Regions from separate parts of the Homo sapiens genome. Here region 1 is linked to region 2. The links come from fine-mapping of genetic effects on gene expression. A gene starts in region 2. The other region holds a variant in brackets. All regions are shown on one strand. Distances are from middle to middle. Region 1 overlaps C7 (complement C7). Region 2 holds the start of C7 (complement C7).

What was found.
Region 1: its variant is fine-mapped to the expression of C7 in lung (TOPMed, PIP above 0.99). The same link has a PIP of 0.9 or more in adrenal gland, atrial appendage, esophagus mucosa, esophagus muscle, gastroesophageal junction and left ventricle.

Annotation. Positions count from the first base shown.
Region 1 is chr5:40,967,461-40,975,460 of GRCh38, reverse strand. C7 (complement C7) reads right to left here. Exons shown (of 18, transcript NM_000587.4): 15 at 2,867-3,058. Among named protein-coding and RNA genes, the nearest start is that of C7, 62 kb to the right of the region's middle. The variant T/C (reference allele first, on the strand shown) is at 3,352.
Region 2 is chr5:40,905,051-40,913,957 of GRCh38, reverse strand. C7 (complement C7) reads right to left here and starts at 4,461. Exons shown (of 18, transcript NM_000587.4): 1 at 4,342-4,461. The coding sequence starts at 4,347. It also overlaps the pseudogene RNU7-161P.

The sequences.
Region 1 (8,000 bases), 62 kb before region 2:
GCCCGGGTGGTGGAGGTTGCAGTGAACCAAGATTGCGCCGTTGCACTCCAGCCAGCCTGGACAAGCGAGACCTTGTCTCAAAAAAAAAAAAAAAGCACACTTCTCTTTAAAATGGTATTATCCTAAATGCAACGTAGTACCCTGAACTGGACCCTAGAACATAAAAGAGACATTAGTGGTAAAACATGAGGTATTTGAATAAAGTGTATAGTTTAGTCAATAGCATTGTACTAATATTAATTTTTTAGTTTTAACCAAGTTGTGTTATGTAAGATGTTAATATTAAGGAAGATGGGTGAAGGGTGTGTAGAAATTATATCTGTGACTTTGCTGAAATCTAAAATTATTCCAAAATGAAATTTTTTAAAAATGGTATTATCTACATCAGTGCTTCTCAACCAGGGGCAGTTTTGTCCCCCAGGGGACATCTGGAAATCACTAGGGACATCTTTGGTTTTTACAACTGCAGAATGTTATTGACATAGGAGGATGCTACTGTTGGGTAGAGACCAGGGATGCTGCTAAGCACCCTGCAATGCACAGAAGAGGCTCCCATAGCAAAGAATTATTAGACCTAAAATTCCAATAGCGTTGAGGTTGAGAAGCCTTAATCTAGATGTACCAAAACTTAAGGTCAATGATCAAGCCATGTAAATTAGTTCTGCACTGTGGTTAAAAATTTACTTTAGGACAAATCCTGAAATTTTAGATTTTAAAAGTTTGCTTAAACTATTATAATGTCAAGCCGGGCGCAGTGGCTCACGCCTGTAATCCCAGTACTTTGGGAGGCCGAGGCGGGCGGATCATGAGGTCAGGAGATCGGGACCATCCTGACTAACATGGTGAAACCCCGTCTCTGCTAAAAATACAAAAAAAAATTAGCCGGGCATGGTGGCGAGCACCTGTAGTCCCAGCTACTCAGGAGGCTGAGGCAGGAGAATGGTGTGAACCCGGGAGGCAGAACTTGCAGTGAGCTGAGATTGTGCCGCTGCACTCCAGCCTGGGTGACAGAACGAGACTGCATCTCAAAAAAAAAAAATGTATTATAATGTCTTTGTGGAAAAAAAAAAAAACGATAGAATTACCTAGCCCAAAGAATTTTTGCATTTAAGAAGAACATAGCTTTGTTGCCTTTACAGCTTGGTTAACCAAGTAAACACACTCTTAAGGCCCACCGAAAGTATGTGCTTTTGCTATTTTAAAAGCAAATTTATTCCCATCAAGACTAACTACGGGGACAGTAGGGGAAAGTGAGGAATTAATGTTTAATGGATATAGAGCTTCAGTTTGGAAAGATGAAAAAAAATGTGGTGATGGTTGCACAACAATGGGAATTACTTAATGCCACTGAACATACATTTAAAAATGGATAAAATGGTAAATGTTATGTTATGTATGCTTTATTATAATAAAAAAAAAGACTAAATACTAGAACAGCCAACATTTTAAAACATCAACTTTGGAAGCTGGTAAGTCTTGGATTTTTTTGTTTGTTATAGGCTTAGAAGTAGTTACTGTTATTCACATCTTCAGAAAAACACACAGATCTGAAAAACATCCTTAATTAAAACCCACTTTAATAGAATTTTCTACTGGGTAAATGAAACTTCATACCAAACTGTGCTGTAAAATAGCTGAAGTAGCATTTTAGACAGACTAGTCTACAATCTCATTTGAACCAAAAGTGCAACCTCATCAACTGTATATTGTTCTCTTTCATTTTTAGAATTGTAAGTACTGGTCCATGACTTTAAATATTCCAAGTAAACTCATGTTTATACTTCAGTGTTTACAGAACACAAAACAACTGTCCTCTGAGATGGAGCTTTGATAACTTAACAGCACATCAGGACAGGCAGGGAGGGCACTCCAAGGACGTGTGTCTTGCCTATTGTTCTGCCTCTCATCCACTTCACATCACAGCCCATATCTACCATCAGTATCTGAGTGCTCCATACCCTGTCGCATGGAGAACTTAGTTAGAAACATCTAATTCACCTCACACCATCACCTGTGAAATCTAGTACTTCATCCTCACTATTAAAAATAAATTTCAGCGTTTAATTAAAAATCACATACTAGAGAGATAATATCACATAAAATAGTATGCAAGTGAGTTTTTCTTCATTCTCATTTTTGTTACAAATACAATATTTTCCATTTATTTAAAAAATGTAAACAAAGAATAAATAAGGGGTTATTGTCAAACAAATCTATCTCATCTAAAATTACCTCTAAAAAGAAATAATTTGGCTTTCTAAATCCTTTCTACCTTAGGTTCTTAAAAGACCATTTTAATTTTCTTGGTGTTAAAATACTGGATTTTTGGGTTTCCACATTAAGAACAATTTCATGAATCACAACACTTTTCCTTCAATAATGTCTGCTTTAAAGTGTTAAATGAAAATGCTTTCTAAATTTTCAATTTCAGAAATACTGATAAACTCTTTGAAAGCCCAAAAATGAAACATACAGAACTTTAAATAAATTATGATCTCAACTCTGTACTTATGAAAAATGCAGGGGAAAAAAATCTAGAGGAAACAAACAAACAAACAAAAAACAGATTTTAAAAATCCTTTATTGTCTTGGCACCATAACAGATATAAAGCTAATCTTTCACAAGGATGATTTAAGTTAAAAGTTTCAGAATCACCAGGCTATCCTTGCCTTTCCTTGCTTTCATGAGTCTTTCTGTGCCATGTGAAGAAAATCTGTTACTCAGTCTACAAACTGACCCTATCTTAAGGAGCAAGAATGGAGGGAATGACTCACAGCTATGGTGATACAGTACCATGAAGGTCGCCACAAGGACTCTCACTTGCCTGGGTACAAGTGTCCTTGGATAGACATGGAAGCCACTCACCTTTTTGTACACAGCGGGCATTCTTCATCTCAGGACTCCACTTAAGGCTGGAGCCACAGAGAAATGCTGAAGGACCTTCTAAGGACATGCCACCTGAACAGGAAACAGTCACCTTCTCACCAACTGTGTAGAAAGGTTTTTGGGGGTGACTCTGTATGCCATCCATCAGTACAGGTAGAACACAGGCAATTTCTAAAGATAAAAGAGAGCAAAATATAAGGGTCGTTGCTCTCCTAAACCATCTTTTTAAAAAAGTCTTATGTGATGCAGACACACTTGTTCTGCTTTTTCATATTAGAGGACAAGGAGGAAGACGTAAGTTCACTGTTAGGGTGGACTGAAAGACATGTCACACAGAGCCTGGCACGTAATTGACCCATGAATATCTAAAAACCAAAACAGCTCCCCCTCTCCCACCCCTCCCCTCAAAACAATGTGACAACTTAAAATGAACAACCCCAATAGAGTCCTAATGCCCAGCCTAC[T/C]GTTGAAACCAAACTTTTCACAGCTGTCACTTATTTATGTGCTCTAGTGATGTTCCACCAGGAGAGTTTCATTAACTTTCATCCAGTTGGATATTTTGCCGTCTGAAATTATTAAAACACCACTTTTATTTATTTATTTATTTTTATTTTTTAGGGACAGGGTCTGTCTTGTTGCCCAGGCTGGAGAGCAGTGATTATTCATAGGTCTAATCAGTGTATACTACAGCCTCAAATTCCTGGGCTCAGAAAAGCAATGGGGAAAGGATTTCCTGTTTAATAAATGGTGATGGGAAAACCGGCAAGCCATATGCAGAAAACAGAAACTGGACCCCTTCCTTATACCTTATACAAAAATTAACTCAAGATGGATTAAAGACTTAAATGTAAAACCTAAAACCATAAAAACCCTAGAAGAAAACCTATGCAATACCATTCAGGACATAAGCATGGGCAAAGACTTCATGACTAAAACACCAAAAACAATTGCAACAAAAACCAAAATTGACAAATGGGATCTAATTAAACTAAAGAGCTTCTGCTCAGCAAAAGAAACTATCATCAGAGTAAACAGGCAACCTACAGAATGGGAGACAATGTTTGTAATCTATCTATCTGACAAAGGGCTAATATCCAGAATCTACAGGGAACTTAAACAAATTTACAACAGAAAAACAAGCAACCCCATCAAAAAGTGGGCAAAGGATATGAACAGACATTTCTCAAAAGAAGACATTTATGCAGCCAACAAACATATGAAAAAATGCTCATCATCACTGGTCACCAGAGAAATGCAAATCAAAACCACAATGAGATACCATCTCACGCCAGTTAGAATGGTGATCATTAAAAAGTCTGGAAAGAACAGATGCTGGTGGGGATGTGGAGAAATAGGAACGCTTTTACACTATTGGTAGGAGTGTAAACTAGTTCAATCATTGTGGAAGACGGTATGGCAATTCCTCAAGGATCTAGAACCAGAAATACCATTTGACCCAGCAATCCCGTTACTGGGTATATACCCAAAGGGTTATAAATCATTCTACTGTAAAGACACATGCACACGTATGTTTATTGCAGCACTACTTACAATAGCAAAGACTTGGAACCAACCCAAATGCCCATCAATGATAGACTGGATAAAGAAAATATGGCACATATACACCATGGAATACTATAACGGGTTAATGTCCTTTGCAGAGACATGGATGAAGCTGGAAACCATCATCCTCAGCAAACTAACACAGGAACAGAAAATGCATGTTCTCACTCATAAGTGGGAGTTGAACAATGAGAACACATGGGCACAGGGAGTGGAACATCACACACTGTGGCCTGTCAGGGGATGGGGGGCAAGGGGAGGGAAAGCATTAGGAAAAATACCTAATGCATGCGAGGCTTAAAACCTAGATGATGGGTTGATAGATGCAGCAAACTACCATAGCACATATATACCTATGTAACAAACCTGCACATTCAACACATGTATCCCAGAACTTAAAGTAAAATTAAAAAAAAAATTAAAAACTCCTAGGCTCAAGCAATCCTCCTGACTCAACCTCCTGAGTAGGTGGGATCACAGGCACATGCCACCACACCCAGCTAAAGCACCACCTTTAAACTTGCAGACATAAAAGTGTTCAGTGTTCCCTGACTTTTCATCTGTATTCTTTCTTACTCAATTACATTCATTAGCTCAAATAGCTTACTTCAAAAAAGAACAGAGAAAAAGAAAAAACACACATAGTATAAACAGCAAGTCAGAATTCATGATTAAAAAAAAAATCTTGCTAATATCCCTAATGGACTTTGGACAATATTCTACAAAGTATTGCTGTATCTTTACAGCACTGTCATCAGAAAACCCATTCATTCATTTATTCATTCAAAAACAGCATTTGATGGATGCACTGAAAGCTTTGACTTCATCACAATGAGATATATCAGTGTAGCAAAATTGAGCTAATACTCCATGAATATATACAAAAATCCACAGCACTTTTTGAATGCCTATATTTTGCCAAATATGTTGTGCACTGCTTGGGACACAGCAAAGTACAAGTCACATCTTATGCCTTCCAAAACTTCATAATCTAGTATTGAATCTGCTTGTTTCTAATGCGTTTGCTGTTTTCACATTAAATCTCCTACCAAGACAAAAAAAATAGAAAGACTGTACAAAATTAAAAGGAAAACTATTTCTGAAAGAATCAGAGCACTAACAAGGCAGTGCAAGTTTGAAAGTCCAAGATTTCAGAGAGAAGGGAAGTCTAATGTGGTGATTACATTTACATTTGGTAACACATTTTTCCTTGAGGTATTTGTAAATTAAAAAAAAAAAGAAAATATGCTGAAAGGCTGCTAAACTGAAGAGAAAACCATAGCTCAGAGGCTAAAAAGATAAACAGCTTTTAGCAGTCTCACAGGACCAGGGTTTTAAAAACTAGAGTCCAGTCCTGTCAAAAAGAAGGGGCCAGGTAGAAAGCCCATACCTTCAGTTGGAATCCCTTAATGGCCACATCCTTGGAATAGAGATAACCCAGACATAAGCCAGCCTCACTGGTTGCCATAAACAAAAGTTAGTCTTCTCTAGAGGAAGATAGCATCATCCAATTTTTAAATTTTCATACGTAAAGTCTGACATTCAATTAAAACTAATTTAACATTCAAAAAGACAAGAATTGACCAAATTCCAACCAAAAAAAACAATAGAAACAGACTTACAGTAACAGACTTACCTAAAGAATGAAATTAACAGATACAGGCCCTGAAACAACTGAAATTAATATATTTTTTTAAATGACAAGATGGAGAATTACAACAGAGAATTAGAAAATATAAAACAGTAAACATAAATGTTTGAAGTAATTGATGTTATTTACTCTGATTTGCTTATTACACACTGTTTACACATATCAAAACATCGCTTAAAAACTATATTTTAAGTGAAAAATTTTAATATTTTTAAATATAATAATGTAAGAATATAGGCTCATTCATTATAATAAATATACCACATTAATGGAAGATGTTAATACCTAATAGGGAAACTGGGCGGGAAGTAAGGAAGTAGATGGGCGCTCTCTGTACTTTCTAGTCAGTTTTTTGTAAGCTAAAACTGCTCTAAAAATGAAGTTATTAATTTAAAAATTCACTATGCAGTAAAAAAGTAGACAAATGAAACCTCTAAAATTGAAAAATAGCCAGGCACGATGGCTCACACCTATAATCCCAGCACTTTGGGAGACTGAAGCAGGCAGATCACTTGAGCTCAGGAGTTTGAGAACAGCCACGGCAACATGGTGAAACCCCGTCTCTACTAAAAAGTACAAAATTAGCTGGGCACTGTGGCAAGCGTCTATAATCCCAGCTACTCAGGAGGCTGAGGCAGGAGAATTGCTTGAGCCCAGGAGGCAGAGATTACAGTGAGCCAAGATTGCACCACTGCACTTCAGCATGGGTGACAGGAGTAAAATCTGTCTCAAAAAAAAAAAAAAAAAAAAAAAAAAAAATATATATATATATATATATATATATATATATAAAATATATATAATTGTTTTAAGTTGAAAAATAAAATTGATAAAATTTAAAACTCTATAATAGAGTTCTTAAAAGGAGATTATACAGAAATATACAGAGAATTAATAAATTGGAAGATAGGTCAGTTGAAAATATTTAGAATGAGGCCAGGTGCGGTGGCTCATGCCTGTAGTCCCAGCACTTTGGGAGGCCCAGACAGGCAGATTACTTGAGGTCAGGAATTCAAGACCAGCCTGGCCAACATGGCAAAACCTCATCTTTACTAAAAATACAAAAATTAGCCAGATGCAGTGCTGCATGCATGTAATTCCAGCTACTCAGGAGGCTGAGCCAGGAGAATTGTTTGAACCTGGGAAGCGGAGGTTGCAGTGAGCCGAGATCGCACCACTGCACTCCAGCCTGGAAAACAAACCATCTCAAATAAAAAAAAGAAAAAGAAAAAGAAAATATTTAGAATGAAACAGAGGGGGAAAAGATGGAAAACAAACAAAAAAATGATGTTAAAAAATATAATGGTCCAAAAAATGTATAATTTGTGTCCCATAAGGACAAGTGAGGAAGAATGGGACAGAAGCAATGTTTTAGGACATAATGGTCAAGAAATGGTCTAAAACTGACAAAAGACTTAAAGCACAGGTTCAATAAAAGCCCAGAAAAATATAAAGAAAATTATACCTAGACATCAGAGTAAAGTTGCTGGAGAAAACCAAAAGCAAAAAACAATTAATAATACCCTTTTCCCACCCCAGCACTACTGGGCCTGCAGGTCTCTGTCAAGCCACAAACGCAGGTCTCTGTCCCACAGGATGGGGTTTGTTAAAGTTGTTAATAATAAGGCCTACTTTAAAAGATACTAAGTGAAATTTAGAAGATGACAAGAGGGTAAAACTGATCACTATGTTCGGAAATGCTTGGTGATACAGGATAAAAATAAATACAGCACACCCAAATACAGGATGATATTTTATGTAACAAACAGAGTTATCATTTGTCAGATTGCTTAGACCTGTGTAGAAGGGAACGTGATAGTCTGTGCAGTGTATGCACATGAACTGCCAAAATATGGTGTGAAGATTGGAGCCAAGATCACTCCATTGCAATCCAGCCTG
Region 2 (8,907 bases):
CCTGTAATCCCAACACTTTGGGAGGCTGAGGCGGGCAAATCATGAGGTCAGGAGATCAAGACCATCCTGACTAACACGGTAAAACCCCATCTCTACTAAAAATACAAAAAATTAACCAGGCATGTTGGCACGCACCTGTAGTCTCAGCTACTTGGGAGGCTGAGGCAGGAGAATCGCTTGAACCCAGGAGGTGGAGATTACAGTGAGCCGAGATCATGCCACTGCACTCCAGCCTGGGTGACAGAGCAAGACTCCATCTTAAAATATATAAATATACAAAATATACATATATATATATTTGCACATGGTGGCACATGCCCAGATAGTGCCAGCTACTCAGGAGGCTGAAGCAGGAGGATCACTTGAGCCCAGGAATTCAAAGGTGCAGTGAGCTATGATTGCACCATTACTCTCCAGCCTGGATAACAGAGCAAGACACCATCTCTCTTTAAAAATGTCAAAAAATAACAGTTGTTGGTAGGAATGCAGAGATAAGTGAGAATAGGGAATAGTATATATTCCCACCAATATATACTATTGGTGGGAATGTAAATTAGTACAACTTCCATAAAAAACAGTATGGAGATTTCTCAAAGAACTAAAAATTGAACTACCATCGGATCCATCAATCCCACTACTGGGTATCTACCCAAAGGAAAAGAAATCATTATATCAGAAAGATACCCGTACTCGTATGTTTATCTCAACACTATTCACAATAGCAAAGATATAGAAGCAACCTAAGTGTCCAACAACAGATGATTGGATAAAGAAAATGCAGTATATACACAATGAAATACTGTTCAATTTTTTAAAAAAGAATGAAACCATGTCTTTTGCAGCAGCATGGATGGAACTAGAGGCCATTATATTAAGTGAAACAACTTAGAAACATAAAATCAAGTACCTCATATTCTCACTTACAAGTAGGAGCTAAATAATGTGTACACATGGACAAAAAGTATGGAATAATAGACATTGGAGACTCAGAAGAGTTGGGGATAGAAAGGGGAAGAGTGATGAGAAATTACTTAATGGGTACAATGTACATTATTTGGAAGATAGATACACTGAAAGCCCAGACTTCAACACTACCCAATATATCCATGTAACAAAATTGCACTTGTACCCCTTAAATGTATACAAATAAAATAACTAAATGAATAAAATTTCCAAAAAAAACCATAAAATTTCAAAAAATCTTGAGTACTTGTTCTTGGCCTTTGACTCTCAGCCAAAATGTGGATAATGAAAATAATTATTTCTAACATTCTGTCACAGGTGTTTTAAAATAATTTCAGCCAGGTTTGGTGGCTCATGCCTGTAATCCTGGCATTTGGGGAGGACAAAGTGGTAGGATCACTTGAGCCCAGGAATTTGAGGCCAGCCTGTTGCAACAAAAAATACAAAAATTAGCCAGGCATGGTGGCGGGCACCTGTAGTCCCAGCTACTCAGAAGACTAAGGTGGGAGGATCACTTGAGCCCAGGATGTAGCAGCTGCAGTGAGCCATAATTGTACCACTACACTCCAGCCAGGGCAACAGAGCAAGATCTTGTCTCAAATTTAAAAGCATTTTTTAAAATAAAGAATTTCAATGAAATTTTAGGAAATATACTTTTTATCATCATGGATGCCTTTGTCATCACCTTCTTCATATACATACTCATTATAACCCATCAAGGTCTGCTTATTACAAGACCAGTTCTGTTCATGTTATACAAAGTGAATCTACTAACCAAAAGCATTTCTTGAAATTTGGCTAGCCTTAGGATAATTACCTTTGGAAAAAATACCTTATAAATGAACAAGAGAGATAGAACAAACACAAATAAATCATGTGAATGACAGTGATAGACATACATCTGAACTGACTCTATAAAAGAATTGCTTGGTTGAAGAAGTATGTGGGGCCGGGCGTGGTGGTTCATGCCTGTAATCCCAGCACTTTGGGAGGCCAAGGCAGGTGGATCATGAGGTCAGGAGTTCAAGACCAGCCTGGCCAATATGGTGAAACCCCATCTTTACTAAAAAAAAAAAAAAAATACAAAAATTAGCAAGGCATGGTGGCGCACGCCTGTAGCCCCAGCTACTCAGGAGGCTGAGGCAGAAGAATCGCTTGAACCCAGGAGGCGGAAGTTGGAGTGAGCAGAGATCGTACCTCTGCACTCCAGCCTGGGCAACAGAGTGAGACTTTGTCTCAAAAAAAAAAAAAAAAGAAAGAAAGAAAAAGTGTGTGGTATTTTTGTTCTGTGTCAATGTAGCTAAGCTGGAACTACATTCCCCTGAATTATCTTCTCCTCTTTATCATCAATGAATGAGCATTAGCTCTACCTCCTTCTTCCAGTATGTCCCAGCTACAATCCTGATTTGAGACATTACTGTGCTTGACCATCACTGTGCTTGGGCACTGTGACGACCATTCCCTAGATTCACAGGCCCCAAGCTCAGCTCTCTCCTGGAGGGACGGAACAAATGGCTGGGCCACAGCCAGCTCCGAGGGAAGTCCCTTGTCCCTGACATCCTTCTCCAACACCTCAGATCCAAGTTATTTCCTATCCAAGAACACAGAGAGAACCAAAGGGAATCCTGTGACTGTCTCTCTGAATTTAGTTCACGTGGGGGCTGTGGGGCCAAAACATTGCTTCCTCTTAAAAAGTCTGACATAGAAACCATTTCTAGCTTCTTGATAGCCCAAGGCTTTCACAAGTGTCCCTTCTTTGTCACATATCACCAAAGCATGTCCTTCAGGTTTACTGTAAAAATATGAATGTCCACTTTCAAATACAGGTAAGAACTCTACATGCGACTTGGAGTGAAATAATTGCTTTAGTGTTACAGTTGTTTTAGAACTTGTCTATCAGGCTTCCCAATTTTTGCTGGAAAGCCCCTATATGTAAAATTTTTAAAAAATTAATTGCTTTATTTGTTGATATTTTGTCAACTAATTAAAGGATAGAAGTATATTTATTATTACAGCAGTAAAATATTATAATAATGATTGTAAACATGTTTTTAAGCACAAAGCAATTATTAAGATTTCTTATTGTAAAATAAAGTAAAAGATTAATAGTTAACACAAATATTAGGAAAAAACATTTTGGCTAGATAACTTTCAGAAGAGCATCATTTTCTTTTCTTGTTTTTTTTTTGTTTTTTTTTTTTTTGAGAGAGAGTCTCACCTTATTGCCCAGGCTGGAGTGCAGTGTCTAGTGTTGCCATCTTTATGCCCATGAGTACCCAATATTTAGCTCCCACTTAAAAATTAAGAACATGGGGTATTTGATTGTCTGTTCCTGCGTTAATTTTCTTAGGATAATGACCTCTATCTGCCTCCATGTTGCTGCAAAGGACATGATTTCATTCTTTTTTATGACTGCCCATCATAACTTTAAACAAATTAACTTTGTTATTTGTGTTTAATTTTAATTATTTAATTTCACAGAAGGCATGGCTTAATCAAGATCCATATCTTGCTCCTCCTCTAACCCCAATAATGAGCGAGCTTGGATTCGGTGCCCCAATGGACAATACAGTGACTATGGAAGCAATCTAGCCACTGACAGATCTGTGAAATTATTCCTACAGTCTTACAATGCAACATTTTTAAAGTTTAAATACCAAAATTTACAATAATAAAATTTGAATAGCAATCTCAACTTATTTTTGCATTCCAGAGATTTAGTCTATGATAGCGATTTCTATCTTTGGTCTTATCTTTTGTTGAATAGCTTTTTGGTTGTGTTTTGTTTTGTTTTTTAATATTTGGCCTTTTTGCATTGGGCCAACATGTATACTTGGTAGACCTTTAGTTTTATTCCATCTACTCATATCTTCTATTCTCACAATGCTGACTCTTTCATCCAGGATTTCAAATTCTCAAGTTCCAAGCCTGCAAATTTGCTTTTCTATTAGCTCTTAGATAAATCGCAGGACCCTACTGCATGGCTCCTAATCCAAACAAGCAAAAAAAAAAAAAAAAAATACACCAGAGGAAAGTTTTTCCCAAGAAATAACAATAGTACTATTGTATTTCTTTATGACTTTATCGGGACTTTCATAAACATTGTCTCCAATTCCTGATTCCCAGACCTCTGGACCTATAATTTCACCACAAGATAAGAAAAAGGAATTCACTTTGGCTGAACTGTTAAATATGTTTAAATAAGGATTTCTAAACATCACCCCCAGGTCTTTTTCTTCTGTATTTTCCTCTGGCCTTCTATTTATTTGATGTCTTTCAGTTAGGTATTACACCTCTTCGTTTAAATTACATTTATATTACCCCCGTTCATTTGAAAAGATAGCTTCATTTACAAAAGTAATGAATTTATTGTCTTACCTTCATGTTTGGGAAAACATTCAGGGCAGAAGAGAGGAGGAAGATTTCCTCTGTAAGGGCCGGGTAAGTTTTCAACAGCAGGAAGAGCCCAGCAGGCTGCCTGCCTCTCTGCCTCTCCCTGCTCTAGATTATCTTGGCACTCATATATAGAGCAAGTGGTCCTGAGATTTAGCTCCTACCCCAACCGGATTCTCCAACGACAGCAAGAGCCTGACCTTGTACTTAATCTGTGCCTTGAAACCAGATGCATCTTATCAATTACACAGCCTTAGCTACAGCCAGCTGGGACTGTTTGGAAGTTATAGATATGTTTCTTAGAAACATATCTATAAATCAGGAAACACAGCAAATGTTCTCAGTTCAATGTTTAAGTGATTTTCAACCAAAGGAGACTCTGTAAGGCAAGGGATGAGCCTCCTTCTTGTTTCAATCTACTAAACTAAGTGGATGTTTTCATGATTCTCTTAAAAGGTGTTATATGCCAGACTTTGAGATTAAATATTTTATGAAAGAAAATATTTAAATGCAGTTCTGTCACTCAAAATCTAAATAGAATGTTCTGGAGTAGAATTTTTCCCCAAAGTACAGCCTAATACAACCCAATAGTCATCCCTTCATGCTTAACTTTCACAGAATAATCAGAAAGAATATCAATTTTTGTAAACATATTTGAGGACATCACTAATTTTCTCAAGAACTTCACTTAATCCTTTGATAATCAGATCACTGTGTTGGAAAGTTCTTCTCAGGGTCATTATCCACATCCATTTTCTCTCCTTTGCTTTTTATCTTGTCTTATTCTACCAGGTCTTTATTTTCCCATAGCTTTGCATTGATTCTAGCAAGTCCCCAACATCACCTTCATACATTTAATAAAATGCTGCTTATTTTGCAAGATTTTAGATTTCCTATTGAAACTGAGCTACAGTTGGCCAGGCGCGGTGGCTCATGCCTGTAATCCCAGCACTTTGGGAGGCCAAGGCGAGCGGACCAAGAGGTCAGGAGTTCGAGACCAGCCTGGACAATACAGTGAAACCCCGTCTCTACTAAAAACACAAAAAAATTAGCCAGGCATGGTAGCATGCACTTGTAGTCCCAGCTACTCAGGAGGCTGAGAGAGAAGAATCACTTGAACCCAGGAGGCGGAGGTTGCAGTGAGCTGAGATCGCACCACTGCACTCCAGCCTGGGAGACAGAGTGAGATTCCATCTCAAAAAAAAAAAAAAAAAAAAAATTGAGCTACAGTTTTATTTGTATTGTTGGACCAAATATTCTAACACTAGCTGCTAGTGCATTATGAGTGAGGTAGAATAAATGTTAAGCGGGAAAGAAAATTTGAGTTAAGAATAATTTTATAAGTAAACATTCCATTAGTGAAGATTTTCTAGCTTTAATGACTTTTTCTTCCTATATCCAAAGCACTGGAATAATAAAGACAACCCCTATCCTCCCCTCATAAATTAATGGTGGTTTCCAGAGACAAAGCTTCCGCATCTTTTGTTCAAAGCTTTAGTGATTTGTGTGGAAGAAATTTTGTCACAGAGACAAAGATCCTGACTCCTGAAAGAAATATTTTTTATTCAGCTCCAACTGCATAAATTCCAGATGCCATAGACTCATCTTAAATTCTCAATATACAATTCCATTTCAGCGGCTCTCTTAGTTTGGGTTCCCCCAGAAGTAGATTCAGAAACAAGAATTCAATTGCAAGTAGTTTGTTTTTGTTTTTGTTTTAAGAGATAATCTTAGAAAGCACCACTGGAAGTGGGAAAGTGAGATTGGGGAGAAAAGAAAGTCAATAAAGGGTGTTTTATCAAGCAAGAGACTCCAGTGGGCAATTTGAGTTCAGTTCTAATGAGGAACTCTGAAAGACATTGCACACGAACTCTGCAATTAAGAGTTAGTCCAGCCAGGTGTGGTGGTTCACACCTGTGATCCCAGCACTTTGGGAGGCTGAGGTGGGTGGATCACTTGAGGTCAGGAGTTCAAGACCAGCCTAGCCATGATGGTGAAGCCCCATCTCTACTAAAAATACAAAAAAAAAAAAAAGCCAGTTATGGTGGTTCATGCCTGTAATCCCAACTACTCAGGAGGCTGAGGCACGAGAATCACCGGAACCCAGGAGGCAGAGGCAGCAGTGAAGTGAGATTGCACCACTGAAGAGACTGCACTGCTGAAGAGCAGCCTGGGTGACAGAGCGAGAGCCTGTCCCCCAAAAAAAAAAAAAAAAAAAGAGTTAGTCCAATTAAGGGGTAAGGAAACCCATCGCTGATGATGAAGGTAGCTTCTGAACCCATTGGCTCTCTGGCACTACCAGCTTGCCCTGGGGGCAAGCTAAGCACACGCCTGCAGCCATAAGTAAAGGTTTTCAAGCAGGGAATTGTAGCATTTGCAATATTTGCAGGTGTTTACCTTTGTCATTTAGAGGCGAGCGATGAAGGAATATGGGTAGGGTACCAACAGCATCTGCTACAGTAGCTTTTTATTTATATATACATGCATGTATTAATTTTTTCATCCTGAATTTGATCAATATTTTCTAAAATGTGTAATATGATAGGCTATCAGCTTTGACAGGTAGAAGCCTTAAGCTATATCCTTCCTTATTTTTGTTCTTTACATGCTATAAAGGACCGTATTAGCCCATTTACAGAATATCCTTAATCTAGAGGATGATTTGGATATATTTATAGTAATTTAGAACTTGAATTGTTCAGCTCAGGTATCCCATAGATCATTCAATTCTGAAAGGGTTACAGAAACTTCCTTTCCCCAATTGCCTTGCACACTCCTACCTTCATATCTGTAACATCACAAGAGCATTTCTTCTGTCTGCAATTTTAATGGAGGAACCATTAGCACAAAGGCTTTAAATGCAGGTGGGAGCAACACTGTGGGAAGTTTTACTGCTAGCATAAGTTGTATGGACTTTATTCACACAATGAGTCACTGAGAATTCACCCACTGGAAGTTTTTAAGAAAGAATCAAAGCAGTGTTTTAGATTGATTGAAACAGTAGCTGTGTGCAGCCTACATAGAATAGGTAAGGAAAGGAAGCAGGAAGCGTGACTTGGAATTTATTTCAGTAGTTTAGACAAGGGGATCAAGGCCTCATTTAAAAAGGGATTGACACAGCTGTCTCTACAAAAAACACAAAAATTAGCTGGGCATGATGGCACATGCCTGTAGTCTCAACTACTCAGAAAGCTGAGGTGGCCCAGAAGGTTGAGGCTGCAGTGAGTTATGAGCAGGTCACTGCACTCCAGCCTGGGTGACAGAGCAATGCCTTGTTTCAAAAACAAAAACAAAAACAGAAACAACAAAAAAAGAAGGGGCTGGGCACGATGGCTCACACCTGTAATCCCAGCACTTTGGGAGGCCGAGGCAGGTGAATCACTGGAGAGGTCAGGATTTCAAGACCAGCCTGGCCAACATGGTGACAACCCCTGGACAACATGGTGGACAACTGTAATTCCAGCTACTTGGGAGGCTGAGGTAGGAGAATCACTTGAACCTGGGAGGCAGAGGTCGCAGTGAGCCAAGATGGCACCACTGCATTCCAGCCTGAGCAACAGAGCAAGACGTTGTCCCAGGAAAAAAAAAAAAAAAAAAGGAAAGACAAAAAAGGCAGAAGAATTCACAGGGTTTAGTGATTAAATATGGTTTCAAGTCTGATTGACTCAGAGAATTGAAAGAATTTAAGAAAAATTTAAAGGAGGAAGAAAATTAGAAGTCAAAAAGGAAGAGATGGTTTTGGAGAGGGGACATTTTTACTTTGGGGAAAGCATCCAACATATAATGGAGGTCTCTTTGGGAAGAGACAGGCTTCACCTATGTCTCTTGGAGGGGGACATGGGTGGAGCTGCTAGCATGGAGGTATCTAACTAAAATCATGGACTTCAGTGAATCTTCTAGAGACTGAACATAATGAACCATAAAACCACAAGAAATGCCCCTGTTCAGGAGTAAGAAGAAAAAAAGTCCCAAAAAGGAGAGGTTACAGAAAAAGAAGAAAAACCAAAACAGTGCAACATCAAGCCAATTCAGGAGAATTTCAAGATGAAGAACCCAGTCAACAATTACTCCCAGCAAATGCCCAGCTTGGATTTGCAAAGCACAGTGCATTGTAAATTAAATGTTCTGAAAGTTCTGTAACAAGTAAAACTTTTTTAACTTTTTCAACCCAGAATTTCTCAAGTTCATGTGACCCCCTGGACTTTTATTTCTAACAAACCCCAAAACTGGTATATGGGCATGCTTTGGCAAATAAATGGTGTCTGAGCCAAAGCTAAATCAGTAGAAGGATAAAGCAGATTTCTGCCAGACTGGGGAAGGGTCAATAAGGGCACAGCCCTCTCCTCATCTCCTGTGACACCAGCTCTTCCCCATTTGCCCTCACCTCCCTTGGCAGCTCTTCAAACACTGTTAACATCCCCAAACCCTAATGAAACTATTACTCCACCGATGATATCAGGAAGCAATTCTGGTTCACCACAGGGAGATATTTGAAAACATTTTAACGAAGCTATTTCATTTACTAGTCATTTCATTTTGCTCTGAATTGTT